Linked DNA regions of Homo sapiens: region 1 is linked to region 2. The links come from fine-mapping of genetic effects on gene expression. A gene starts in region 2. The other region holds a variant in brackets. All regions are shown on one strand. Distances are between the middles of the regions.

The links. PIP is the estimated chance that this variant, and not a neighbour inherited with it, causes the effect.
Region 1: its variant is the best candidate, but not a certain one, in a credible set for the expression of UHRF2 in whole blood (TOPMed, PIP 0.51).

The regions. Positions count from the first base shown.
Region 1 is chr9:6,537,115-6,550,177 of GRCh38, forward strand. It overlaps GLDC (glycine decarboxylase), which reads right to left. Exons shown (of 25, transcript NM_000170.3): 22 at 2,937-3,032. It also overlaps the pseudogene RN7SL25P. Among named protein-coding and RNA genes, the nearest start is that of GLDC, 100 kb to the right of the region's middle. The variant T/C (reference allele first, on the strand shown) is at 4,793.
Region 2 is chr9:6,402,186-6,417,128 of GRCh38, forward strand. UHRF2 (ubiquitin like with PHD and ring finger domains 2) reads left to right here and starts at 11,014. Exons shown (of 16, transcript NM_152896.3): 1 at 11,014-11,458. The coding sequence starts at 11,306. RefSeq lists silencers at 10,732-10,871, 11,152-11,331, 11,402-11,831.

The sequences.
Region 1 (13,063 bases), 130 kb after region 2:
CAACCTCCTGGGCTCAAGTGATCCTCCCACCTAAGCCTTCCAAGTAGCTGAGACTACAGGTGCACGCCACCATGCCCAGCTAATTTTGTTGTTGTTGCATAGACAGAGTTTCACCATGTTGTCCGGGCTACCGAGCTCAAGCGATCTGCCTGTCTCTGCCTCCCAATATGCAGAGATAACAGGCATGAGCCACCACACCAGGCCTATGAAACTTTTAAAAGCTGAAGAACAACTCCCAGGTTGATACACCTCTGAACTAATCTTGCCCCAATGTGCAGTGGTTCTCAAATTCTGGTGAGCATCATTATTACATGGAGTACTTTAAAGTAACATCTGCATGATTTCAAACATTCTCTACCAACATTTTATTTAAAAATGTTCAGGCCAAGTGCTGTGGCTCACACACCTATAATCCCAGCACTTTGGGAGGCCAAGGCCAGCGGATTGCTTAAGCCCAGGAGTTTGAGACCTGCCTGGGCAACATGGCAAAACCCCGTCTCTACAAAAAATACAAAAATTAGCTGGGTGTGGTGGTATGTGCCTGTAATCCCAGCTACTTAGAAAGCTGAGGTGGGAGGATCACTTGAATCCAGGAGGTGAGCCTGCAGTAAGTCAAGATCACAACACTGCACTCCAGCCTGGGTGACAGAGTAAGACCTTGTCTCTATTAAAAAAAAAACACTAACATCCAGATGAGTTGAAAGGACTGTAGGTGAGCACCCATATACCCACCACCTAGATTCTACAATGCTGTTGTTTGCTTTATCACATCTACTCATCCAGCCATCCGTCTTACTTTCTGACGCATTTCAAAGTACACTGCAGTCATTAGTACACTTCACTCTTAAACCCTTCAGCATATATATCATGACTAGAATTCAGTATCTGTTCACATATTTTTGTGATAAAACTTACAGTGAAATGCACAAATCCTAACTGTACCATTTAATGAGTTTTGGTAAATGCATACACCTTTGTCACTCAAACCAGACAGGGATTTTTTTTTTTTTTAAGAGAACAAGCTGATTACCTATCACGTCTGCCCTTAATTCCATGTGTGAGCAAATTCAGTCCAACATATCCTGCTGTAGTGGTCCCCATATTTTGAACCACCTGAGAAGTTCTTGCAAAAGAAATTCCTGCATCTGGGCCCTGATTCAGGAAGTCCAAGGTAGGGTCCAAAAATCTATGAGTCATAAAACATGCCAGGTGATTCTGATAATTGGTCTGATAATTAGCCTGGAACTGCTGGGTAAGGCAGTATGCCCCAAAATTGCCTGAAAAGACTCACACAGAAGCTGCGTGTTAAATATACAGATTATCAGCTCTCTTCCTTAAAAATTCACATTCAGCGGTTATGCTTTAAGACCTGGAAACTGTGTTGTCATGTTCATTGTTTTTCGACTTAGCTATTCATTTGGTCTCTCATTTATTAACACTATGTGTTGAGTGCCTACTATGTGCCAGGCACCTGGACAATTCTGGGCTTTTGGACAAGTGTGGAAACGGTTCTATCAATCTTCAAAACAACATTGAGGTCAGGAGACAACATGATTCAGAAACACTGGGTGGTGACTTCAGTTACCACCTCCCTGTGAGCCCCTCCTCTCTCTCCTTGCAAATGCTGTTGCAGTTAGATGTGTGAAGTAGGCAAGGCATCCACAAAGTGAGTGTGTTTTCCTGAGTCGGCCATTACCCAATCGCTAGCCGGGAGGCTGTCAGGGGAAAGGAGTTCTACTGTCAGGTTACAAGAGTTGCCAAGCAGAGATCTTGAGGATGGGATTGGTAATTTCATTAATGAAGCCTTTCTCTGGCTTTCCCATCTATTATCAGTGTAACTGCATAATAAGATCATTCATTCAAGAGAGGAGTGAGTCACACACATGGGATTCCCATTATGATGCAGTAGTGAAACTATTAAATTTAAAAGATTTTTTTCTTTTTTTCCAAAAACAAGTCATTAAAACTCAGAGAGGACTCCATATCCATTGAATGGCAATGTTCTCCCCAACTTAGCCTTTCTGAGAATTGAAAGATCCTTGATATTATTATCATTTTCATATTATTATAATAGTAATATTGGCTGGGCGTGCTGGCTCACACCTGTAATCCCAGCACTTTCGGAGGCCGAGGTGGGTGGATTGCCTGAGCTCAGGAGACTGAGACCAGCCTGGCCAACATGGTGAAACCCCATCTCTACTAAAAATATAAAAAAATAGCTGGGTATGGTGGTGTGCACCTGTAGTCCCAGCTACGTGGGAGGCTGAGGCATGAGAATCACTTGAACCCAGGAGGTGGAGGTTGCAGTGAGCTGAGATCACATCACTGCACTCCAGCCTGGGCGACAAAGTGAGACTCTGTCTCCCCAACCCCCAAAAAAGTAATATGGTCTTAATATTTTAATATTAATAACATTGTTCACTAGGAAAATGTAGTGAGCTGAGCTGAATGAACACCCACTAATGCACAGGTAAAGTGTCCGTGTCTTTCAAAATGCTTCAAAGAAAGTTGCATTTTCTTTGTGAAAACTACTACACTTATTTCTTCATCTCTAGAAGCAGCTGAAACAGCTACGCCATGACAGAGGTGGCTATAAAACTCCAATGCCATTTGTCTCTACCACTTCGATGGGTTACTTGCTCTGTCTCCTTTACCACTACACTCACTGCAACTCAAAGGGGTTTTAATTTTAATCTTAAACACTTTTCTTGGCTGTTAATGGATTCAAGATGCATATTTTAATATCTTCTGAAGGGCAGGACCAGTGCAGTCATAAGCAAACTTTTTTCTCTATTATTTTGGAGGTTGCCAAGAACCCTGAGCTCCCCATTTATCCCCCAGATCAGTTTACTGTGGTGCCTGCATTTTCCATTTGTGCTTTAGGAAGTGGTCCACAGCCAGCATGGGCGGCGGCATGAATGTCAAAAGCCACTTACCATAATCCTGGAGTCTCTTGGCCACATCCACAGCCTCAATATTTGCAGACTTTTTGAAGGGTCTCGTGTCCAAAATAAATTCATGACCCACATAACCTGTTCAGGAAAGTTGTTTCAGCCCAAGATTAGCATCAGCTTATTGTTTTACCCAAACAAATGAATAAGTAATTTAATAAATAAGTGCATCAGCTTTTTATGTGTATCAGCGAGGACCAAGAAGCCATGGGCACCGGGTAAGTTTATTATTGGCAATAAAGGTTTCATTTAGTCTTATTACAAATAAAAATGTTTAGCACACTGTGCCGATGTGTCTTATCTTCAGCTCACTACACACCTGTGAACCTGATTATGGCTAATGGCAGGTGGGGGGCATTACTGAACATATGACCGGAGGTGTCTGGGGATGAGATTATTTCTATTCTGCGGACATAAAATCTACTTGCAACAGTTAAATGTGTTGTATAGTCCTGATCCTTTTATACAAAATATTTCTAGAGCCATTGACACTTTTCAGCAACTTTACCCTCAACATCAAATAATTACTTTTGCGTATATATAGGTATGGATATATTAAACATATATCCATAAGACACATACAGAATTTTATGTTTCTTTGAAGGACCTTTTGATGTTTTGGTTTCAGGCTGCAAACAAAGAATTAGAAATACGCGACGTCAAACAGTATACCGTAAGTAACAAGGAGTTAATGAGGCCAAAGTCTGTGCGACCCAGTTCACTTTGTTCTACCAATGACATATCCCTTATTTGAAATTACAGATCTTTATTTGAGCCTCATGTGGGCACCCAAAAGTTTTGGATTTTCAGGCCAGGCACAGTGACTCATGCTGGTAATCCCAGCACTTTGGGAGGCTGAGGTGGGCAGATCGTTTTAGATCAGGAGTTCCAGACCAGCCAGGGCAACATGGCCAAACCCTAGCCCTACTAAAAATAGAATCACCTGAGCCTGGGAAGTCGAGGCTGCAGTGAGCCGCGATCACACAACTGCACTCCAGCCTGGGTAATAGGGGCAAGACCCTGTCTCAAAAAAATAAATATAAATTTTTAGAAAAAGTTTTAGATTTTCAGATTAGGGATATTCGACCTGTAGTTCATAAACAGGCTTCTTCTCTAGGTCCAGGCTGCCAGTAGCTCCCCAGAATGAGCTACTGACCACACAACCATCATCAGGAATAAACCATTAAGTCAGCGTTTTAATAAATAGACCAATATTCCTCCGGGGCTTCCCAAATTCCACGGTCCACCAACTGATGAATTTCCTTCCAGGAAAGTATCTACTCATGAGATAATGATGTACTCCTTCTTCTTAACCCACTTTCCTCACTCTCAGCAAAAATGAATCCACTTATAGAGACTCAGAGCAAGCATAACTTCTCAAGCCTGTGAAGAATAGCTCCAGTAATTAATAGCCCCTGAAGACAGTCTACGAACTGCTCTGCTTCTTATAGAATGAATAAACATGAAAGAGGTGGAGCTGGGCTCATTGGCTCACACCTGTAATCCCAGCACGTTGGGAGGCTGAGGCAGGCAAATCACTTGAGGTCAGGAGTTCAAAACCAGCCTGGCCGACATGGTGAAACCCTGTCTCTACGAAAAAAAAATTACAAAAATTAGCCAGGTGTAGGGGCGGGTGCCTGTAGTTCCAGCTACTCGGGAGACTGAGTGAGAGAATTGCTTGAACCTGGAAGGTGGTGGTTGCAGTGAGCCGAGATGGCACCACTGCACTGCAGCCTGGGAGACAAAGCGAGACTTCATCTCAAAAAAAAAAAAGAAGTGGTTTTGTTTGAAAATAAAACTATAAAGAGCGTAAGACTCTGAATATACTGAAACTGCATATT[T/C]TTAAACCACGCTTGAAGAAAAAAAAAAAAAACTTCAAAAACATTGAAATAGGGGCCAGGCGCGGTGGCTCAAGCCTGTAATCCCAGCACTTTGCGAGGCCGAGGCGGGCGGATCACGAGGTCCAGAGATCAAGACCATCCTGGCCAACGTGGTGAAACCCCATCTCTACTAAAAATACAAAAATTAGCTGGGCGTGGTGGCGCATGCCTGTAGTCCCAGCTACTTGGGAGGCTTAGACAGGAGAATTGCTTGAACCCGGGAGTCGGAGGTTGCAGTGAGCGAAGATCATGCCACTGCACTCCAGCCTGGTGACAGAGCAAGACTCTGTCTCAAGGAAAAAAGAAATTGAGACACAGTTGAGCGCTCCGTCACTCAGGCTGGAGTGCAGTAGTGCCATAACAGCTCACTGCAGCCTTGACCTCCTGGGCCCAAGCAATCCTCTCAGTTCAGCCTCCTGAGAGTAGCTGGGACTACAGGTGTGCACCACATGCCCAGCTAATTTTTGTATTTTTTGTAGAGATGGGGTCTCACTATGGCTAGGCTGGTCTCAAACTCCTGGGCTCAAGTGATCCCCCCACCTCAGCCTCCCAAAGTGCTGGGATTACAGGCCGTGAGCCACTGCGCCCAGGCAAAACATGCTTTCTAACAATGATGGGGAATAAACTGTAAGGAGTATGATTCAAAAGCAGAAAATTCAGCCGGGCATGGTAGCTCACACTTGTAATCCCAGCATTTCAGGAGACCGAGGCAGGAAGATCGCTTGAGCCCAGGAGTTTGAGACCAGCCTGGGCAGCATAGTGAGAGCTTGTTTCTACAAAAAAACAAAAAATTAGCTAGGTGCAGTTGTGCCTGCCTGTAGTACCAGCTACGTGTAAGGCTGAGGTGGGAGAATCATTTGAGCCCAGGAGGTCAAGGCTGCAGTGAGCCGAGATCACATCACTGCATTCCAGCCTGGGTGACGGAGTGAGACCTTTTCTCAAAAAAAAAAAAAAAAAAAAAAAAGAGGTAGAAAATCCTATTCATGGGTAGGTAAACATAGGGAAAAAATGCTGAAACAGAATAGTAAGTGGAATGTTCAAGGGGAAAATCATTAGACTAAGTTTTTATCAACTATTAATACCAGGACTCTTAAATGCTCAGCTGAGGATTGCTTGAGCTTGGGAGTTGGAGACCAGCCTGGGCAACAAAGCAAGACCCTATCCTACAAAATATTTAAAAATTAGCCAGGTGTGTGGCAGACATCTGTAGTTCCAGCTACTTGGGAGGCTGAGGTGGGAGAATCGCTTGATCCCAGGAGGTTGAGGCTGCAATGAGCTATGATAATGTGACTGTACTCCAGCCTGGGTAATAAAGCAAGACCGTCTCTTAAACAAAACAAAATGCCCTGATTGTGACAATGATTGGAGGACGAAGGCTAATGGAAGCTCACTGCTCGGAATGACACCAGACAGCAGGGAGGGGAGGAGGGGAGAGACACAGTGGGGGAGGAGGCACTCTTGCTGGCAGCGCAAGAGGAGAGTCTTCCAAGCAGAGGTTCAGTAATAGCTGAAAGGCACCGTCAAGCCAAGCCCAACACAGCACTGCTAATACTACAGTGCCATCTGAAGAGGTCCCCACCATAGCCAAGAGGTTTAGGAAGAGCTCCATTTTCTAAATGAGGTTCAGATGTTATTTTCTAAATCCATACTCTATTGCGTTCAAATAGAAACTGCGGTGGAATTCCAGCATCTCTCTCCATCTCTATGTGAGCCCTGAAAGGGATGAAATTTCAACTTGGTGGCTGTCAGAAGCCAGATCCTAAGATGTTCTTTGCAGCTTTTAGGACACACAAACCTGCTATAGGGCAATGTTGGGGCGATATCAAGTGGAAACTGAATAAACCACTCAGCACCAACTTTTCGTGTTAACAGAGTAGGTGTTTCTGCTGGACCTAACAGTGACTACAGCTGAGAAGGTACCACGTGAAAGGGGCAAGGAGGACAGGAGGGGGGGGGATGAAGGAAAAGCAAGGTAAACGTTGGGTGGCTATCTAAGTGGGAACCACCGCCCCCATATGTTGATTGTCTTCTGAGGGTAAGAACAATATGGGAGTGTGCTGTGAAAAAATAGGGCTGCTCAAAACCCTCCTTGAGAGAAGGGACCAGACCTTACTTATCCCCCATCCTCAAGGCGGCTGCTGAGGAATAAATGAACTCACTGGGTAACTACTCTGGAAAGCTCTGCTGGGCAATCAATGCTTGGTCAAGCCTTTTAGCTGAAATCCACAGAACATGACTAACAGAATCAAACCTCCCGGCTGTTTCCCTGTAGTTCAAGCGAGAATGAGGTTTCCCCGAGAATGAGGTCAGGTAAGCGGGACTGAGCAGGGTCACTTGTGAGCCAAGGATGTGAGGGCCCAGCCCCTGAGGCCCCTGCCCACCCATACAGCAAGGGCCACCTGGAAACCTCCGCAGGGACAGGTATTTGCAGGCAAAGTCGCTGTTTGTCTGATGGAAAAACAAAAAAAAAGGCAGAAGACCTGAGGTCAAGATTTCAAGATAAGCCTAGCCAACATGGCGAAACCTCGTCTATACTGAAAATACAAAAATCAGCCGAGTGCAGTGGCGGGCACCTGTAATCATAGTGGGAGGCTGAGGCAGGAGAATTGCTTGAGCCGGGGAGGCGGGGGTTGCAGTGAGCCGAGATTGCACCACTGGACTCTAGCCTGGGTGACAGAGCAAGACTCTGTCTCAAAAAAAAAAAAAAAAAAAATGGATAGGCATATAAGAAATTAAAACATAAAGAAAACGTTGGGATACTAACAAAGTCATCTCCTCCTACTAATGGGAACTCCATTCAGATCAAACCTTTGCCTCCTATAAAAGTAGACAGCTGTGGATTTTTGCAATTCTTCCTTTAAAATGTATCAACTTGCCGGGGCAATGGCTCACACCTGTAATCCCAGCACTTTGGGAGGCCAAGGTGGGTGGATCACCTGAGGTCGGTAGTTTGAGACCAGCCTGACCAACAAGGAGAAACACTGTCTCTACTAAAAATACAAAGTTAGCCAGGCATGGTGGTGCATGCCTGTAATCCCAGCTACTCAGGAGGCTGAGGTGGGAGAATCGCTTGAACCCGGGAGGCAGAGGTTGAGGTGAGCTGAGATTGCGCCATTGCAATCCAGTCTGGGTAACAAGAGCGAAACTCTGTCTCAAAAAAAAGAAAAAAAAAAAAGTATCATCTTACCTGAGGTAATTCCTTTCTTTCCTCATTCTAGCAGAATACAGTCATGCATCACTTAATGAAGGGAATACGTTCTGAGAAGTGCATTGTGAGATGACTTTGTCATTGTGCAAACAGCATGGTGTACTTACATAAACTAGTTGGTAAAGTCTACTATATATACCTAGGCTACATGGTACAGCCTCTTGCTCCTACTGTACTGAATACTGTAGGCAATTGTAACACAATGGTCCGAATCTGTGTATCTTAACATATCTCAACATAGAAAAGACAGAGCAAAAATACGACATAAAACATAAAAAATGGTACATCTGTGTAGGGCACTTACCATGAATGGAGCTTGCAGGGCTGAAGTTGCTCTGGATGAGTCAGTGAGTGAGTGGTGAGTGAACGGGAAGGTCTAGGACATTCCTGTATACTACCATAGACTTTGTGAACGCTGTACACTTAGGCTATATTAATTTATTTAAAAAAACTTTTTTCTTCAATAATAAATTAACCTTAGCTTACTGTAACTTTTTTTATTTTTGAGACAGAGTCTCAATCTGTTGCCCAGGCTGGAGTGCAGTGGCGCAATCTCGGCTCACTGCAGCCTCCTATTCCTGGGTTCAAGCGATTATTATGCCTCAGCCTCCCGAGTAGCTGGGATTACAGATGTCCACCACCATGCCTGGCTAATTTTTGTATTTTTAGTAGAGACGGGGTTTCACCATGTTGGCCTGGCTGGTCTCGAACTCCTGAGTTCAAGTGATCTGCCCGCCTCAGCCTTCCAAAGTGCTGGGATTATAGGCGTGAGCCACCATGCCCAGCGTACTGTAACTTTTTTACTTTATAAACTAAATTTTTTAAACCTTTCTGACTCTTTTGTAATAACACTTTAAACACAAATACATTGTACAGCTGTACAAAAATATTTTCTTTTTCAATGTCCTTATTCTATATGCTTTCTTCTATATTTAATTTCTTTTTACTTTTTAAACTTTTTTGTTAAAAACTAAGACACAAACACACACCTTTGTCTAGGCCTACAGATTCAGGATGCTCAATATCATTGTCTTCCACCTCCTCATCTTTTTTTTTTGAGACAGTGTCTCACTCTGTCACCCAGGCTGGAGTGCAGTGGCACCATTACAACTCACTGCAGCCTCAACTTCCCAGGCTCAAGCAATCCTCCTGCCTCAACCTTCCAAGTAGCTGGGACTACAGGTGTGCACCACCATGGTGGTTAATTTTTTCTTTTTTTTTTTTTTTGGAAGAGACAGGTCTCATGATATTTCCCAGGCTGGTCTCAGACTCCTGGGCTCAAGCAACCCTCCCGGCTTGGCCTCCCAAACTGCTGGGATTGCAGGCATGAGCCACAGCACCTAGCCCCACCTCCGACATCTTGTCCTCTGGAAGGTGTTCAGGGACAGTAACACACACGGAGCTGCTATCTCCTGTGATGACAATGCCTTCTTCTGGAATACCTCCTGAAGGACCGCCCTGAAGCTGTTTTACAGTTAACATTTTTTTTTTACAGTAGAAGGAATACACTCTAAAATAATGATGGGGGCCAGACGCAGTGGCTCACGCCTGTAATCCCAGCATTTGGGGAGGCCAAGGTGGGAGGATCACCTGAGGTCAGGAGTTTGAGACCAGCCCGGGCAACAGGATGAAACCCTGTCTCTACTAAAAATACAAAAATCAGCCAAGCGTGGTGATGAACACCTGTAGTCCCAGCTACTGGGGAAGCTGAGGCAGGAGAATCGCTTGAACCTGGGAGGCGGAGGTTGCAGTGAGCCAACATCACACCACTGCACTCCCACCTGGGTGACCAAGCGAGACTCTGTCTCAAAAATAATAATAATAATAATAATAATGATAAGAAGCATTATGTAGTGAATACATAAACCAGCAGCATAGTCTTTATCATTATTATTAGGTACTATATATTAAATGTAAGTGTCATACTTTTAGACAACCCGCCTCAGCCTTCCAAAGTGCTTGGATTACAGGTGTGAACCAACACACCCGGCTGCTACTAAATAAAATTAAACGTGAGGAAGTTTAAAATATGAACAAATAAGCAATTAGGGAAAAAACCAATAGGATGCAGTTATATGTCTTTTTAAGATATGGAAACAACATGATTTTAAGCTGTGAAATCAGAGAGTCAGCTGTGAAGGAGAAGGAAGTAGACAGAACAGATGGGGGAACACAGTTACCCTGGATGGACAAGGCTGGCACTAAGAACTAGGGAAACATTGAGCGCATTGGCTACATATACTAAAACAATAAGGTCATTTTCACCTATCAAATTGGCCATGATATATTGTTTACTTGTTCTTCTGTCTAGTTCTCAGTCCTCACTAGGCCCCTGTGTGATGGCCACTCTCATATGTTATCACTGTGAGATAAATTGGCACAAAGTCTCTGGGAAAAAAATTGAAGCCATACATGTCAAAAGCTTCAGTGCATTTATATCCTCTGAGATAATAATTTTTTCTATGACTCTCTCCTAAGGAAATTATCAGGCAAAATTCTTTAAAATTTCAAGCAAAGGATACTCACGGCCACATTGTAATAAATGCAAACAAAGGGAAGAAAAACTATACAATTGGTTAAATCATGGCACATCTACACAATGGAATTGACAGTGCCACTTTCAAAGAATATTTAGTGACAGGGGAAAATGCTCATAATATACATTTAAAAAATAGGCTAAAAACTGTATTTGTAGGCCAGGTGCAGTGGCTCACACCCATAACCCCAGCATTTTGGGAGGCCGAGGTGGGAGGATCACTAGAGCAGAGGAGTTCAAGACCAACCTGGGCAACAGAGCAAGACCCCGTCTCTACAAAAAATATATATATAAATAAATTAGCCAGGTGTGGCGGGTGTATGCCTGTGTTCCCAGCTACTTGGGAGGATGAGTTAGGAGGATGACTTGAGCCCAGGAGCTGAAGATTGCAATGAGCTGCCATGGCACCACTGCACTTCAGCCTGGACAACAAACTAATAAAACTATCTGTAGTATGATCAATTGTACAAACAAAGAGGAGAAGAAATACAGAAAATATTAGTAATGGCTATAACTGATTGATGGAACCATGGACCATTTACATTTTCTTTGTCATGCTTTATTATTTTCCAAAATGTCCGTGTTGAGCATATATACATTATTTATGTAATCTGATGAAATAAATATTGAAGCTATTCCTTAAAGCCAATACACAAGCAGGATACATTTCACAGAGCAGGAGCTAAGCTAGATTTGAATTAATCAGAAGCTCTTGTCACTTCTTTAGTACCCACTTCACAGAAGCATTTTATTGTGCTGCTTAGAGACATGTTGCCCACAACTGTGTTTTCTGCTCTCTGGGGAGCATTTTAACCAGCACTTCTGGTTATTTGGTCCTATTCTTTTTCAAACTGTGGAACCACCCCTTTGGATACTGATTTATAAGGTAAGACCAGCCATTAAATTAAAGATCACAGCTATAGAGCTACATTCCACCTGGACCAGAGAAACCAAGATCCCATAAGCGCTTTGTTGCTGTTGCCCAGGTGCAGGCGGGTGGGCTGGTTCCTGACGTCTGTCTCTCTGATCTAAGCTCCAGGTCCTGGTCTCTGTCCTGCTCTTACTCTGGGCCCATAGCAAGGACTTGTACCTGGTTCTCAGTTCCAGCCTTTCCCTTCCAGGGTGACTTTGTTCCCCCATCTGTTTTTCTCTCAAAGGTATCTTTGCTCTCCCTTCTCACAGCTTAAAATCATGTTGTTTTCATAGTTAAAAAGAAAATATAACTACATCCTACTGAAGCAGCCCCCTCCTCCTTCACTACCTGCAAACATGGAATCCTTTTCCCCTCTCCTTCCCGACCTCCATCCACATCTCAGCCCATTTTAAACACCCAGCGTCTGCCTCACCATTGTGCCCAAACTACTTTCAAAGGCTACCAAAGGCTTCCTAATTGTTATAGACAAAGGTTCCTTTTAAGACTCATAATTTAAAATCAGATGTCAATCATACCTCAGTAAAAGCAGAAAAAATCTAAATAAACTTAAGTAAGATTAAATCAGCCACCCGCTCTTTACAGTGTCTCTCCTTATTATGCGTCATCACGTGCATTTGTCTGTTGACTGCCAGAGAAACAAAGCAGGCGCAGCCTCCACTCTCTCCTGGACCCTGGAGTCAGATGGACAGAGCCAGACAATACCAAGTGGGAGAGCAGCTGCTCCGGGGTGGGGTCGGGGGTGGGCAAGAGGAGGGAGTGGAGGCTGCAGGGAGGAGGTGGAGCCACACGGCAGCAGGAGGGCCAGGCAGGGGTGTTGAGGGAGAGGCACTGTGCCAAGCACTGCCAGGGTTCTAAAGCTGCCTCAGGTGTGGAGTGCCCCTCACCAGGCACCCAACTTCTCCCTCCCTCTTAATGTAGCCATCTACTTGAGGCGTTTTGTTCTGGCTTCTCACCTTCAATATTCTTTCCTGGGGCCTCACCACTTCCAAGACTCAGCTATTAGGTCCTGAGCCCACAGCCCAATGTGTAAAAGGATGCCTGGTTTTTAGTTCCCTCCCATCACTTCCAGGGTGACTTTGTTCCCCTGCCTATTATTCCCTCTACTGTAAGCCCTAGAGGCTAGCTAACCTTCAATCACAGGTGTGATTACAGGATTGCAGGTGTGAGCCACCACCCCAGCCCCTTGCTACCTCTAAGGCATGTTTCCCCCTTGCCGCCGTCTTAATGATTGTAACGGTCTCTTCATGAATCCCTACCCTCCCCTGCTCAAAAACCTTTAATGGCTATTGTCCAGCTCAAGGGTGAAGTCCAGAGCCTTCCAAGGCCTTCAAGGCCCCACGCTACATTTCCAGCCTCATTGTCATTTGCTCCCTCTCCCCTATCCCATCCTTCACTCCAGACCAGAGAGCTTTCTTTTCTCTGGTTTGCTCCTGTGTCTCTGCTTACTCAGGCTCTCATCGGCTACGCTGGCTTCCAGGCCCATCTCAAATGGCTCCAGCAAGAAGGCGCTGTCAACCATTCTATCCTGCCTCTACCCAGTCTGAGTTACTCTAC
Region 2 (14,943 bases):
AGTGGCTCACACCTGTAATCCCAGCACTTTGGAAGGCCGAGGCGGGCAGATCATGAGGTCAGGAGATCGAGACCATCCTGGCTAACACAGTGAAACCTCGTCTCTACTAAAAATACAAAGAATTAGCCAGGCGTGGTGATGGGCACCTGTCTGCAGTTCCAGCTACTCAGGAGGCTGAGGCAGGAGATTGGCATGAACCTGGGAGGCGGAGCTTGCAGTGAGCTGAGATCGCGCCACTGCACTCCAACCTGGGCGACAGAGCAAGACACTGTCTCAGAAAAAAAAAAAAATGCAAAATTAACCAAATGTAGTGGTGCGTGCCTGTAATACCAGCTACTCAGGAGGCAGAGGCAGAAGAATCGCTTGAACCCTGGAGGAGGAGGCTGCAGTGAGCCAAGATCACGCCATTGCACTCCAGCCTGGGCAACAGAGCAAGACTCTGTCTCAAAAAAAAAAAAAAAAGATGACCATAATTATTCCCCTCCCAATATACACACTCCTTTGCAATGAGACTTTGCAGCTCCTCCTATCAAGAGGAAGAATCAATTTTCCCTCTCCTTGAATCTGGGCTGGCCTTGTGACTTGCTTTAGCCAATAAAATCTGTTGAGGTGATCCTGTGCCAATTCCAGTCTTGGACCTCAAGAGGCCTTGGAGGCTTCCACTGGCTCTCTTAGAACCCTATCCAGTCACTGTGTGAATAAGTCGAGGCTAGACCCACATAGTACACTGACAGATTATCTTGGGTAAGAAATACTCTGCCAGAAGATCCTGAGATGTGCATGGAGACAAGTTTGACGGGTTATAAATTGTATTGCAATTTACAAAGGAAAGCACTTGAGGCTGGGTTTGGTGGCTCACACATGTAATCCCAGCACTTTGGGAGGCCGAGGCAGGTGAATCACTTGAGGTCAGGAGTTTGACACCACCCTGGCCAACACGGCGAAACCCCATCTCCACTAAAAATACAAAAATTACCAGGGAGCAGTGGCACACACCTGTAGTCCCAGCTACTCGGGATGCTGAGGCAGGAGAATCGCTTGAACCTGGGAGGCAGAGGCTGCAGTGATGCAAGATTGTGCCACTGCACTCCAGCCTAGGTGAAATAGCAAGACTCCATCTCAAAAAAAAAAACAAAAAAAAAAAAAACAAAAAAAACTTGAGGTCAGGAGTTTGAGAAAGCATTTGCGTATCAACAAGAGCAAGGAAAATTCTGCCCACCTTTTTAAAAATGCATTTTTGTCGAAGCCCTGAAATCCTTGCCTGCCTGCCAAACAGTTTAGCTTTACTAATATCATCATTTTATTATATTATAATGGGATTTATTTGGATAATTACTTAGATAATTTGTTGCATTTTGTATATATTACTTTATACCACTTAGTAGAAAATAGAAAAAGTGAAAGTACTGCTTATAATGACAGTGCAATTGGGAGCAAGATGGACTCATTAAGTTTGCCAAAAGCAATAGTCAGCTGGCACAGTGGCTCACGCTTGTAATCCCAACACTTCGGGAGACTGAGGCGGAAGGATTGCTTGAGCTCAGGAGATGGAGACCAGCCTGGGCAACATGGAGAGAACTCATCTCTAATAAAAATCAAAAAAATTAGCTGGGTGTGATGTGTGCACTTGTAGTCTCAGTTAATTGAGAGGCTGAGGCAGGAGAATCACTTGAATCCAGGAGGTTGAGGCTGCAGTAAGTCCTAATCACACCACTGCACTCCAGCCTGGGCCACATAGCGAAATCATATCTCAAACAAAACAAAACAGCCAACCAAACAAAACCCAAAAGCAATAGTCATTAGTTTCAACCTAATGTTTATTGGACTAAAGATGATCTACTGTGTACTCAATAATTAAGGGAAATAACAAAATTAAAGAATATGAGAAATATGCTAGATTAACTCAACTCTTGCTCAAAAACCTCATTTAAATGATAGTAAAGGAATATTTAATGTAATTCAAAAGAACAGAAACAAGATACTAACACATCCTTAGAAGATGAAAAGCCTATGGATTACTTGTTGATCTCTACCCCAGAGAAACTCTGCACACAGTGGAATGTACAAGAATGTTTAGAACATTGTTTGTAAGAGTAAAAAATAGAAACAACCTGAATATACATCAAAAAGAGAATGATTGGCTGGGCATGGTGGCTCATGCCTATAATCCCAGCACTTTGGGAGGCTGGAGCGGGAGGACGGCTTCAGCCCAAAAGTTCCAGACCAGCCTGGGCAACATAGCCAGATTTCATCTCTACCAAAAAAAAAAAAAAAAAAAAAATTAGGCAGGATGGCATGTGCCTGTAGTCCTAGCTACTTCGGAGGCTAAGGTGGGAGTATCACTTGAGCCCAGGAGTTTGAGGTTGCAGTGAGCTAGAAACGTGCCACTGCACTCCACCCTGGCCACAGAGCAAGACTTCATCTTTAAAGAGAGAGAGAGAGAGAAGAGAGAATGACTACATTATGGTATACTTAAACAATGGAATATGATAGATTAGTAAAAATGAATGCCATGGAACTAGGGTCAGCAAACTGTGGCCCACAGGCCACATCCTATACTCTGATACCTATTTTTGTAAAAAAAGTTTTGTCAGAACAAAGTTTTATTCATTCATTTATATACTGAGTGGAGCTGCTTTTGTAGAACTGTAGAATGAAGTAGTTGCAATACAGATCATCTGCCTTCAAGATCTGACATATTTACCCTCTGACCCTTTAAGAAAAAGTTTGTACTAGAGCTACACGTCAACACGAACAGATCCCAGAAAACTAATAATGATTTTAAAAAAGCAAGTTTTAAAGTTATAAAAAAATCATGTTAAGTTTAAAAAGACACCCAAATTTATTATTGTTTAGAAATACACATACACATATTAAAAGTATAAAGATGCACATGACAATAATAAATCCCCAATTCAAGACAATGTTTATCTCTTTGGAAAAGAGAGAGAAAAGGGAATGTAAGCAGAGAGGGGTTTTAACTATTCGAAACATTTCTAAAGCAAGGTGGTGAATACAAGAGTGTTTACTATATTATTCTCTCTACCTTTTAAAATATGGCTAATATATTTCATAATTTTTTTTCAGAGATGGGGTCTTGCTCTGTTACCCAGGCTGGAATGTAGTGGCACAATCATGGCTTAGTGCAGCCACAAGCTCCTGAGCTCAAACGATCCTCCTGCTTCAATCTCCCAAGTAGCTGGGACTATAGATGTGCACTACCACATCTGAATAATTTAAAAAAATTTTTTGTAGACACATGGTCTCTGTAGGTTGCACAGACTGGTCTCAAACTCCTGGGCTCAAGCAATCCTCCCACCTCTATCTCCCAAAGTGCTGGGATTATAGACATGAGCCACCATGCCTGGCCCATATTTCATAATTTTAAAACTCTGTGGTTGTACTAAAAAGGGATTGAAAAATTAGATAGAAGAGTTGTGCAACAGATTCTATTTTCCAAAATTGGCTGCAATAATATCTTCCATCCCATGTGCTCTTCTTACAAAGTGACTTTGACACTCCTCCCACTGAGATGTGGGGTCTCTATTTACTCCCCTTGAAACTGAGAGTGCTTTTGTGAATGTTTTGATCAAAAGAATATGATAGAAATGACACTGTGGTCAGGCGTGGTGGCTCATGCCTGTAATCCCAGCACTTTGGGAGGCCAAGGCAGGCGGATCACTTGAGGTCAGGAGTTCAAGACCAGCCTGGCCAACATGGTGAAGCCCCGTCTCTACTAAAAATACAAAAATTAGCCAGACATGGTGGTGTGCCTGTAATCCCAGCTACTCGGGAGGCTGAGGCAGGAGAATCGCTTGAACCCAGGAGGCAGAGTTGCAGTGAGCTGAGATCACGCCACTGCACTCCAGCCTGGGCATCAGAGTGAGACCCTGTCTCAAAACAGACAAACAACACCAACCAAAAAAAAAAAAAAAAAAAAGAAATGACACTATATGACTTTCAAAGCTAAGCCACACAAAGTCATACAACTTCCACTTTGCTCACTAGAATTCTCACCCGTCTTTGATGTCTTCAACCACCATGTAAGCAGTCTGACTGCCCCTGAGGTGGCAATTCTGTGAGTGTCCAAACTAGCCCACAGAGAGAGACCACATGGAGAGATCCTGAGACTTCTTAAGGAAAGGAAGAGAGAGAGGAGACAGGAAAGAGGAGAGACAGAGAGAGAGACGGGGGTCGGGGGGCGAGAGAGAGAGAGAGAGACAGAGAGAGAGACCTAGCTAGGTCCTAACTAACCATGTCCTTGTTCTTCCAGTTCTGGCCCCATCTGATGATACTGGCATGAGAGACCTTGAGCCAGATTCAGGCTTTTAAACTGAGCCGTTTCTGAACTCCCGCTCCACAGAAACTGTTAGAGATAGTAAAGTACTTTTATTATAAATCTCTAAATTTTTTTTGCAAAGTAAGTTGCATGTGACAACCTAACTGGAAGTTGAACCTTAAGTTAACCCCATCATTAGGATGTTGAACCCTAAATGATGTCACACACAAAATTACAACAAATTTAAAGATCTAATTGTCTTTCTTTTGTGATTCTGGAATTGGGTAACATCTCATTCTATAAAACAGAATGGGTGTTCTTCCAAGCTGAGCAGAGGGGGTTGGCTTTATAGGCAAAGGGCTGAAGAAAGCAGAAAGCAGATTGACCGTTTCAAAGTTACTTTCCTCATACGGTTAAAACAGAGTGAACTTTTTTTTTTTTTGAGACAGAGTCTGGCTCTGTTGCCCAGGCTGGAGTGCAGTGGCACGATTTCAGCTCACTGCAACCTCCACATCCTAGTTTCAAGCGATTCTCTTGCCTTAGCCTCCCAAGTAGCTGGGACAACAAGCGTGTGCCACCACACCCAGCTAATTTTTGTATTTTTAGCAGAGACAGAGTTTCACCATGTTGGCCAGGCTGGTCTCGAACGCCTGACCTCAGGTGATCCGCTTGCCTTGGCCTCCCAAAGTGCTGAGATTACAGATGTGAGCCACCATACCTGGCCTAGAGTGAACTCTCTTATCATGCAGGCTCAGGTAAACTGGGGCCCCTCTGATTGGTGGCTGTGTTGCTATGAATTTCCTGGTTTATTTATTTATTTATTTGAAAACTAGCCCCTTTCAAAGTTCAGTTTTATTATGTGGCACTTAGCACAGGTGACTCCATGCTGGTTTGGTCTGGTCTGCTGGGGGTTAGTAGAGGATCAGTCTAATAATTTTTTTTTTTTTTTTAAACAGAGTCTCGCTCTGTTGCTCAGGCTGCAGTGCAGTGGCAGGATCTCAGTTCACTGCAACCTCTGTCTCCTGGGTTCAAGTGATTCTCCTGCCTCAGCTGGGATTACAGGCATGAGTATCTGGGATTACAGGCAAGCACCATCATGCCTGGCTAATTTTTGTATTTTTAGTGGAGATAGGGTTTCACCATGTTAGCCAGGCTGGTCTTGAACTCCTGACCTCAAGTGGTCCTCCCACCTTGGCCTCCCAAAGTGCCAGGATTACAGGTGTAAGCCACTGGCGCCCAGCCCTCCTAAATTTTGTTAAACACTGTCATCAGTATAAGAAATGAGCTAATTGATTCAAAGACCCTCAGAAATGTTCGGCAATAGGAATGACAAATTGCAGAAGGCAGAGGAAGGCATAAGATTGAAAATGGGGATACATTGCAAGTCTTTAGTGAGAATCCCAGGTCCCCACTCCTACCTGAGCTATCGGATTGTCCAAAGAACCAGGGTCACTCACTGCAGAAAAGAAGTTTATTCTTTGGACAAAGTTCAAAGTTATTTGGACAAAGTTCAAGGGGAAGCCTCCAGAGAAACAAGAGGGTCAATTGAAAGCTAAAGAACACTGGCCAGGGAGGAAGGAGACCAGAGGTTTAAACTTTAACACTCTTTCATTGGTTACATGTCCTTGTGCAAATCATTTCACCATTTGCTAAAGAGAAGGTTAGACCAGAATGAGCTCTAAAGTAGATTTTCATAGTAAAAATATGTGATTCTATTAAAAAGAAAGAGCACACTTTGACTAATTTAATATGACTAATTTAAGTAATGAGCAACCATATTAAGTGCTTTTTAGCCAATGGAAATTCTAGTGCATTTCTTGTAACATGTAGTCCTTTCTAAAATAGCATTAGAGATTATAATCCAAATCCTCCAGTTAAGAGAATTTAATGGTTTCCCCGCCCCATGGGACCAATGATAAGAGTATGGAACACGATATAGGGAATGGAAAGAATATGCATGCATCTAGGACTAGCGACTGCAAATATGTAACAACCCCTGAACCCAAAGCAACAGGGGAGGGAAAGATAGGTTACCAGAACATGGAAGAGCGAGTCACGTGGAGCAGGTCACCTGAAGAGGACAAGTGACATCATGCAAAGGCAAGAGACAGCCTGACTTGGTCTTGCAGGGAGAAAGCCACGGGAATATCCTGATCTCATTCTCTTCGTATCATGCAGGTTTTTGTCTGTGCTCCCTCCCCGTTGGTCAACCTCAGTTGGAAGCTTGAGGGTACTGCCTCTATATTCTTCCTACTCTTGGACTCTAGGACTGCAAACAGGTAGAGAGTGGCCCTGGAGGAGAAAAAGGAAGACATCCAACATAAAAGGGCAGATGAAAAGGTATTAATCATAGCTTCAGAGGATAGGTTGTAATTCATTCTTTAAAAATAAGTTACTGGCTTTGAGACAGTAGTTAAGAAACAAGACATTCTGAAGTATAAGATTCTGGAATTTGTTCTACAATCAACCTTTTTCTGTTTTGCCTCTTGACTTGAACAAATATTGGATCATGACTGATGGTACAAACTTTAGTATTTGCTTTTCATCCATGTAAATAATTTCTCTTTATTTTCCCTGTTCATATCCAAATGGTTTCAGCTACACACTTGGTAGTAAGGTATGATATGCCAAAACTGTCTTGGCTGAGCACTGTGGCTCACTCCTGTAGTCCCAACACTTTGAGAGGCTGAACCAAGTGGATCCTTGGGGGCCAGGAGTTTCAGACCAGCCTGGCCAACATGTTGAAACCCTGTCTCTACTAAAAATACAAAAATTTGCCAGGCGTGGTGGTGCATGCTTATAATCCAGCTACGTGGGATACTGATGCACAAGAATCGCTTGAACCTGGGAGGCACAGGTTGCAGTGAGCCGAGATTGCACCGCTGCACTCCAGCCTGGACAACAGAGTGAGATTCCATCTCAAAACCAAACAAACAAACAAAAAAAAACCCAACTGTCTAATATTGCTGTTTTTGTCAGAGAACTATTTTGTTTTTACAACTGGGCAGATGCCTAAGCACACAACAACAGTATTGCAGGCAAAGAGAGAAAACAGTACACAGTACTACATGGAGAAACACAGGAAGGGTGTGTTTTGTTACATATACAATCATTACTTGCAGTTATTTGTTTATACCCTAAGTCGCCTACTGCATATGTAAATTTATGTTTCCAGATGTAATTCATTTGGTCTGCAGGACAAATACATCATTTTTGAGTCTTACATCTCTAAACTCTGTGCTTAACAATATAGATTGTTTGGGATCTATACACAAATCCTATACAGTCTCAGTAGATACCTAATTTTGAGACAGTCATCTTATCCCCTCCCCACCCCTGCAGTTCTCCATTAAAGCCCCATCACATTAAGAAAGATAAATCTCATAAGAGTGTGTACAGGAGGTCTTAAAAAGTCCCTCTTTAAGAACTTTCCTATTTCTCTTCAATACGTCAAACTTCTATTTCCAGTGGTCAGTTAGACATCTCCAGCTAGACAGATGCTATATTTTGGATGCATTTCAAATGCAACACAGCTCATTTGGAACTCATTGTATTTTCCCGACTTGCCTCCTCTACAAGTTCAGAGCATCACCATCTGCTCGAGCCATCAATTTAAATCTCCTAAGCTAGAAACTTGGGAACTGTTCTCAACATTCCATTTTCCTCATCCTTTATATCCACAATCCTACAAGTTTTATAGGCTCAATTTTCTAGAATACTCTGGAATACATCCTCTCCTCTCCTACTTACCGCCACTAATTTCACCAAAACTGACACAATTGCCTCCTCTGTAAACTTTCTGACAATAAGTTCTCCCCTCATGTCCCTCTTCCTTACTTTTTCCCTAAGGCATCTGTCCAGATTCCTTTTGCTATTATTTCAAATGCATATTTAATTACATCCATCTACTCCTTAAAAATCTTAGTTTTTCCCTGGGGCCCACAAAAATCATCTGCTTTGAATGTTAATTTTCACACACTGCCCTTTTCTATTTAGTCAACCATTCTCTGATTTGCAGTCTCTTCTGACCTGTAAAAAATGCACACTTTTTTGTCTTTGTTTAAGCACTCTTTCCTCTTTGGGCATACTCTGTTTATCTAAATCTTCTCCATAACAGCAGTACTAAAATAATTTATTGTGTACTACTAAGGGATAGTATGCAAACCACTTTACAATCATTAGGTTATTTCAAGCACCATTTTACATTGAGGAAATTGAGGATGTTATTTGTACAAGATCACATTTTTAAGCAAGCAGTAAAACTGGGATTATAATTCCGGTCTATCTCAATCCATGAACTGAACATTTAAATGCTGCCTCCTACTACAATGTATCACATAACTCGTGTCAAGTTGTACAGTTATTTTTAAGCTTCCAGATCATTCTAGTTCCCCTTTTCTTAATCATTCTAGTTCTCCTCTCATCTGTAATCATGGTTTGCGCCAACATCAGTGTTTAGTACTAAGTTATTCTTTAATATTTTATTTTTGTTAAATCTTATCTCAACTAGATTGTAATTTGTTTTGTGAGAGGTAACTAAAAAAAAAATCCTAACGTAACTCCACAAAGCCATAGTATAACGTTATAATAGTAAATAGCATAACCTTATAATAAATAGTTTCGCCTTATTGAGGTAGGTAGTAAGTGTGCTTTAGGTAGATTTGGTTGGTGCAAATGTAATTGTGGTTTTTGCCACCGAAAGAAATGGCAAAACCCCAATGACTTTTGCACCAACCTAAATATCATCTCATTTACATATGTAATAAATACTCAATATTTGCTTTAATTAAAATAGGGGTAGACAAGTGAATTATATTTAGAGGTTCTAGGTGACTGAAATTTTCACAGGGGCAGAAACCCAAAATATGTATGTGCAGTTAATTTTTTCTGTCTCTTCTGTGTTGGGCCATCTTTTTTTTCTCTTTTTTTTTGAGATGGAGTCTCACTCTATCGCCCAGGCTGTAGTGCAGTGGCGTGATCTCAGCTCACTGCAGCCTCCGCCTCCCGGGTTCAAGCAATTCTCCTGCCTCAGCCTCCCGAGTAGCTGGGACTACAGGCAACTGCCACCATGCTCAGCTAGTTTTTTAATATTTTTAGTAGAGATGGGGTTTCACCATGTTGGCCAGGCTGGTCTGGAACTCCTGACCTCAAGTGATCCGCCCACCTCGGCCTCCCAAAGCGCTGAGATTACAGGCCTGAGCCACTGCGCCCGGCCTTTCTCTTCTTTTTCATGATATACTACTGGATTTGTCTGTGCTTGTAATTATTTTAGCTGTTTATTAGTTTATTACAAAAAAATGGTACTGTACCTTTATGGGAATAATTAGCACCTATGTGAATATTTAAGTTACCGATTTTGGCAAATGTGAAGTCCAAGTTGTCTTGTTTTGTTTACGTTTATATCCTCTCTCCCTTCTTGAGAAGACATATTTTCATTTAAAATAAACCCACTTGGCCGGGCGCGGTGGCTCACGCCTGTAATCCCAGCACTTTGGAAGGCCGAGGCGGGTGGATCACGAGGTCAGGAGATCGAGACTATTAGCCGGGCGCGGTGGCGGGCGCCTGTAGTCCCAGCTACCCCAGGGAGGCTGAGGCAGGAGAATGGCGTGAACCCGGGAGGCGGAGCTTGCAGTGAGCCGAGATCGCGCCACTGCACTCCAGCCTGGGCGACAGAGAGAGATTCCGTCTCTAAATACATACATACATACATACATACATACATAATAAATAAAATAAAATAAACCCACTCACCCCCACCCCGACTCCCCAGCTGTAGCAGGGAAGGATTAAGAAGGCGGGGTGGGGGGTGGGGGAAGCCCTGTTAGGTAGTGCTGCGTTGGGCCCACTTCTGAGGGTTTAATCCTAGTAGGGTCTTTGGAGTTCTTTCTTCGGAGGCGCGTAGCTCTGCATTATTTAAAACTGTTTCCCGCAAACCCGCAATCCCTTAGGCCAAAGGCACCCCTAACGCGGAAAGTCTACGAACGGAAATGTCCGGAGTTAGAGAGCGGCCTTTCGGGCAGCTGCCCCGACTTCTCCAAGGCCGGAGGGCCGGCTGGGAGCGCTGCAAGCCAGAGAGGGCGATCCCAGCGGGACCCGCGGCCTGAGGATAGGCCTGGAGCTGCCGCCTCCGCCAGGCGACGGGAAACCCTCGGAAGTGGGTTTCCGCGCGAAAGTAGCATTGCGGCCAGGCGGGAAACGTGTTCGCGAAGCAGGAGGGCCCCCGGGGCCTTTCCCGGGCGACCCGACCCGCCAGGCCGCGTGGCGGGAGCTTTCCTGTTGAGCGCGGTGGAGCGCACACATTTCCTTCAGTTCTTTCTCGGAAGTTTAGGCCGCACCCACCCGCGCCCCCTTTCCAGGATTATACAAGTGCACGCCAGGGTTTCTTATTTTTGGTGTGTTTTTGAGACCAAAGAACCATATCCGCTAAGCCTGAGGAGGCACCCGCCCCCTCAGCTCTGAAACGAGGCCTCAAAACGGCAACCGATGTGGTAGCCGCGCAATCTTCCGAAACCCAAAGGCTAGAGGGCGTGCCCAGTGGCCAGGTGCAGGCGGTGGGGCAAGTAACGGCTTTTGGTAGCCCCGCCCCTCCGACCCGCCCTCTCCGCGCCTGCCCATTTTCGTTCCCTCGGGTCTGTAACCCTCTCCCGGGCCGCTTCCTCTTTAAGGCGGAGCCCGGCGTGGATCTCGCGAGATCCGGCTTGGCGCCGTGACCTCCATGTGGGAGCTCCAGCTCTATAAGTAAACACTCTGCGCGGCGCAGACATGGCCTCTTCCTATCTTTGAGGCGGTGTCTGCGGCAGCGCCTCAGAGTGGTTCCGGTCGTCTCTCCTCAAGTCGGCTAGTCGGGCGCGCGCGCTGAGAGTCGTCGCCGCCTGTCGGGCCCGGCGTCCGGTCGGTCCGGTGGGCGCGCTCGCCCGCCTGCCGCTGAGGGCCCGAGCCGCAGGGAAAGCGGCGCGGGCCGGGCGGGGCGCGGCGCCCAGAGCTCAGGGGGAGACAAAGGGGACCGGTTCCTCTCTAGGCGCCAAGATGTGGATACAGGTTCGCACCATTGATGGCTCCAAGACGTGCACCATTGAGGACGTGTCTCGCAAAGCCACGATTGAGGAGCTGCGCGAGCGGGTGTGGGCGCTGTTCGACGTGCGGCCCGAATGCCAGCGCCTCTTCTACCGGGGCAAGCAGGTGAGGCGCGCCCGCCGCGCCCCTAGCGAGGCTGGGGGCCGGAACAGCTGGGCTCCTCTGGACGCACCGGTCCGAGGGCTCTGTGCGCCGCGCGCGCAGGGCTCACCTGGCTCCGCTGCGGGTGGGCAGCCCCCGCGAGGCGCGGGGTGCGGGGCCCAGTCCCGCCGAATGGTGGGGAGTGGGTCCCTGCCAGCCCCAACTGGAGGTGCGCCGCGCGGGGTCAGAAGTGAGGGCGTCCGGAGCGCAAATATCTCGCCGTTTGTATTTGGTAGGACAGCGGCCGTAGGCACTGGGTGCCCAGGTCCCTCGCTTCCCGCGCTCGGCGGGGCCTGGGGCCCCCAGAGGGCGGGGAGGGCAGAGGGCTCTGGCGGCCATGCCACCGCGCGGGAGACCCGGAGAGCTGGCTAACCCGGCTGAGCGTTCGCCTGGCTTCCGCGGCTCTTCCGCGTCTTCGGCTCTCAAACAGGGGAAACTCGGGCATTGAGCTCTCAAGAATAAGAACCCTAACTCTGCTTCCTGACTGTGGTAGGATTCGCGCAAACTGAAGATTCGAAGGGTTTCCAGAACTTCTGGTCCCTCTCCCTCGCCGCCTTTCCTAGGTTTGGAATGTCTCGAGGGAGGTTAGAGACCTGGGCATGAAGAAACTGTCGGTTTAACCGGGGGCCGGGTTTACGAATGCCCTATATAAGCCAAGAGTTTTATTCCCGAAGTGAAAAGGAGTGTAAGACTGTTTGCTTTTCTTACTTCTCGCCTTCTAATACTCATGTCGTTCACGCTTTAAGCATAGCACTGCAGCATAGCCAGCGGTGCATACTTGAAGGCTGTCTGTGGGCATCTCTGGTATTTTTATGGTCTGGCCAGTCTAAGTTTTTTTCCTATTCCACAAGTCTCTTACAATCTATATCCCTAGCCACTCAGACCCATCGTATTTTTCTTTGTCTTCATGTTGTTGTTAATACACTAAAAAGTTGGCATCCTGAGTTGATAGACCACAGTTTGGCTCCAATCCTGTGGTTTTAAATAAGTGTAGCTCTTTGATTTGGTAGAAGTAGCCTACAGTTGCAAACTACTTAAAAGGAATATTTTCCTCCCCTTCACAGGCTTAGTCTTCGAAGACTGTCCAGAAATTTCATAGTAACAAATTACACTTTGGGAAGGAGAGAGCTTTTTTTTCCCCTTTCCTTCTCTCTTTAAAATAATGTTATAGCACCTTTGATTTGTGTTTGCAGCCAGTTTTGTACTGACTTCTTAGTGTTTGACTTGTAAAAACAGGTATTTAGTTGTAAGCTTTGCTTTTGAAATAATTGTACACTTGTTAAATACTACATAGATTTGCTTTGCTGTGCCTCAAGTGGCTGATACCGTTTCCTTTTGATCACAAGTGAAAAAGCATGTAATCGTTTGATGCATTTTATTTTCTAGCTGGGGACAAATAGTACATGAATTCCTAGGACACTGGTGATTTCAGCACCAGAGATAGAAATGAAGGATGTTCTTGGGCAACACTCCTAAAATCTTTATTATCAAATATGCTAAAATAATTATCACATATGGGATTGGGTTAAATTCAAGGCAACAAAGTAGACTTTCAGTAAACTAGGAAGCTCATTCCAGATTCCAGGGAAAACTGAGGATAACCGTTGTACTTCCTCTTCCAGGGTCCTAGTGGGTAATTCACTACTTGGGTTTCTTCAGCCCAGTGATAAACCAGTAGGGTAGAGGAATAGACCTTTGGTGCCAGCCATTAACTTGGAAACAGAAAAGGAAGGTCATTGGTACCAGCTGTGTGTTCACTTTCTTATGCGCTGACAAGTAGCTATGGCAATGAGTGTTATCTTTCGTGGTCTCTGGAGCTCCACAGATGAGGTAGCCAGCCTGTAGCAGGTAACTACTGGAATGGCATCACAGAGAGTCCCCGTCCTGTAAAATACCATGTCCTCATTGGAAAAAGGTACCCCTACTTCAAAATACTTTACTGCCACGTAGTGAAAAATGTCATAAATTGTAGACAATACATTTATTTTTATTTAAGTGGTACCCGCCCCCCATACTCCATTCGTATGTTAGGCTCCAGCTTTTAATCTTTGGTATGTATCAGAATCGCTTGTGGATATTTATTATAGATGTTCAGCTCACCCCAGAACTGCAAGTAGTTGAATTTAACAAGACCCCACGGGAGATTCTGATAACACCAGAGTTTAGAAAATGAATGTTGATAGATAGTCTCCCACTAGTCTCTTACTATTCAAAGTATGGTCCCTGGATTCTCAGGACCAGCAGCATTAGCTTTACCTGAAATCCTCACGCCAGACCTACTGAAGCTGACCTACTGAAGCAGAATCTGTATTTTAACAAGATCTCCAGGTGATCTGTATGTAGGTGAAGTTGGAGAAGGCAGTGTTAATTGACTCCACTTTTTTTGTTGTTGTTTTTGTTTTTTTTTTAAGCCGGAGTCTTGCCCTGTCGCCAGGCTGGAGTGGCGCGATCTCGGCTTACTACAACCTCTGCCTCCCGGGTTCAAGCGATTCCCCTGCCGCAGTCTCCCAAGTAGCTGGGACTACAGGCGTGCGCCACCACTCCCGGCAAATTTTTTGTATTTTAGTAGAGACGAGGTTTCACCATTTTGGACACGATGGTCTCTATCTAGGACAGGACCTCAGGTGATGCGCCCACCTCGGCTTCCCAAAGTGCTGGGATTACAGGCGTAAGCTACCGTGCCCAGCCTTGACTCCACATTTGAGGGTCAAAATGGAGACCTGCAATTCAGGGCTATAAGTTTTGGTTAGAGTAGGATAACATGCTGTGAACATTCTTATCTGGGAAGTTGAGTTTGAGGCACGCGGGGGATTGGGTCTTTTTAAGGAAGAGATTATGTTGGTGGATCTCTAAATCTTTTTTTTTTTTTTTTTTTTTTTTTGAGACGGAGTCTCGTTCTGTCGCCCAGGCGGGAGTGCTGTGGCGCGATCTCCGCTCACTGCAAGCTCCGCCTTCCGGGTTCACGCCATTCTGCCTCAGCCTCCCGAGTAGCTGGGACTACAGGCGCCCGCCACTGCGCCCGGCTGATTTTTTGTATTTTTAGTAGAGACGGGGTTTCACCGTGGTCTCGATCTCCTGACCTCGTGATCCGCCCGCCTCGGCCTCCCAAAGTGCTGGGATTACAGGCGTGAGCCACCGCGCCCGGCCTAAATCTTTTGAGAATCCAGAGCTTTTCCTATTTTAAAGGATTCTCTCTCGTCATTCTTTCACTCCTTACCACTATAGAGGTGGTCTTAAAATAGATAACAATGTGGGGCATGAACTATAGTTGAAGAAAAAAGTTGCCTCTCCCACTTGGTTTTCACACAGAATATAAAAGTACTTGCCTATTTAAAGGAATATCTATGTATATATTATATATGATGTATATAACATATATAATACACACATATATAATATGTGATGGATACGTGAAAGTTGTTTTGCCCTTCACTGGCATCCCTAGTCAG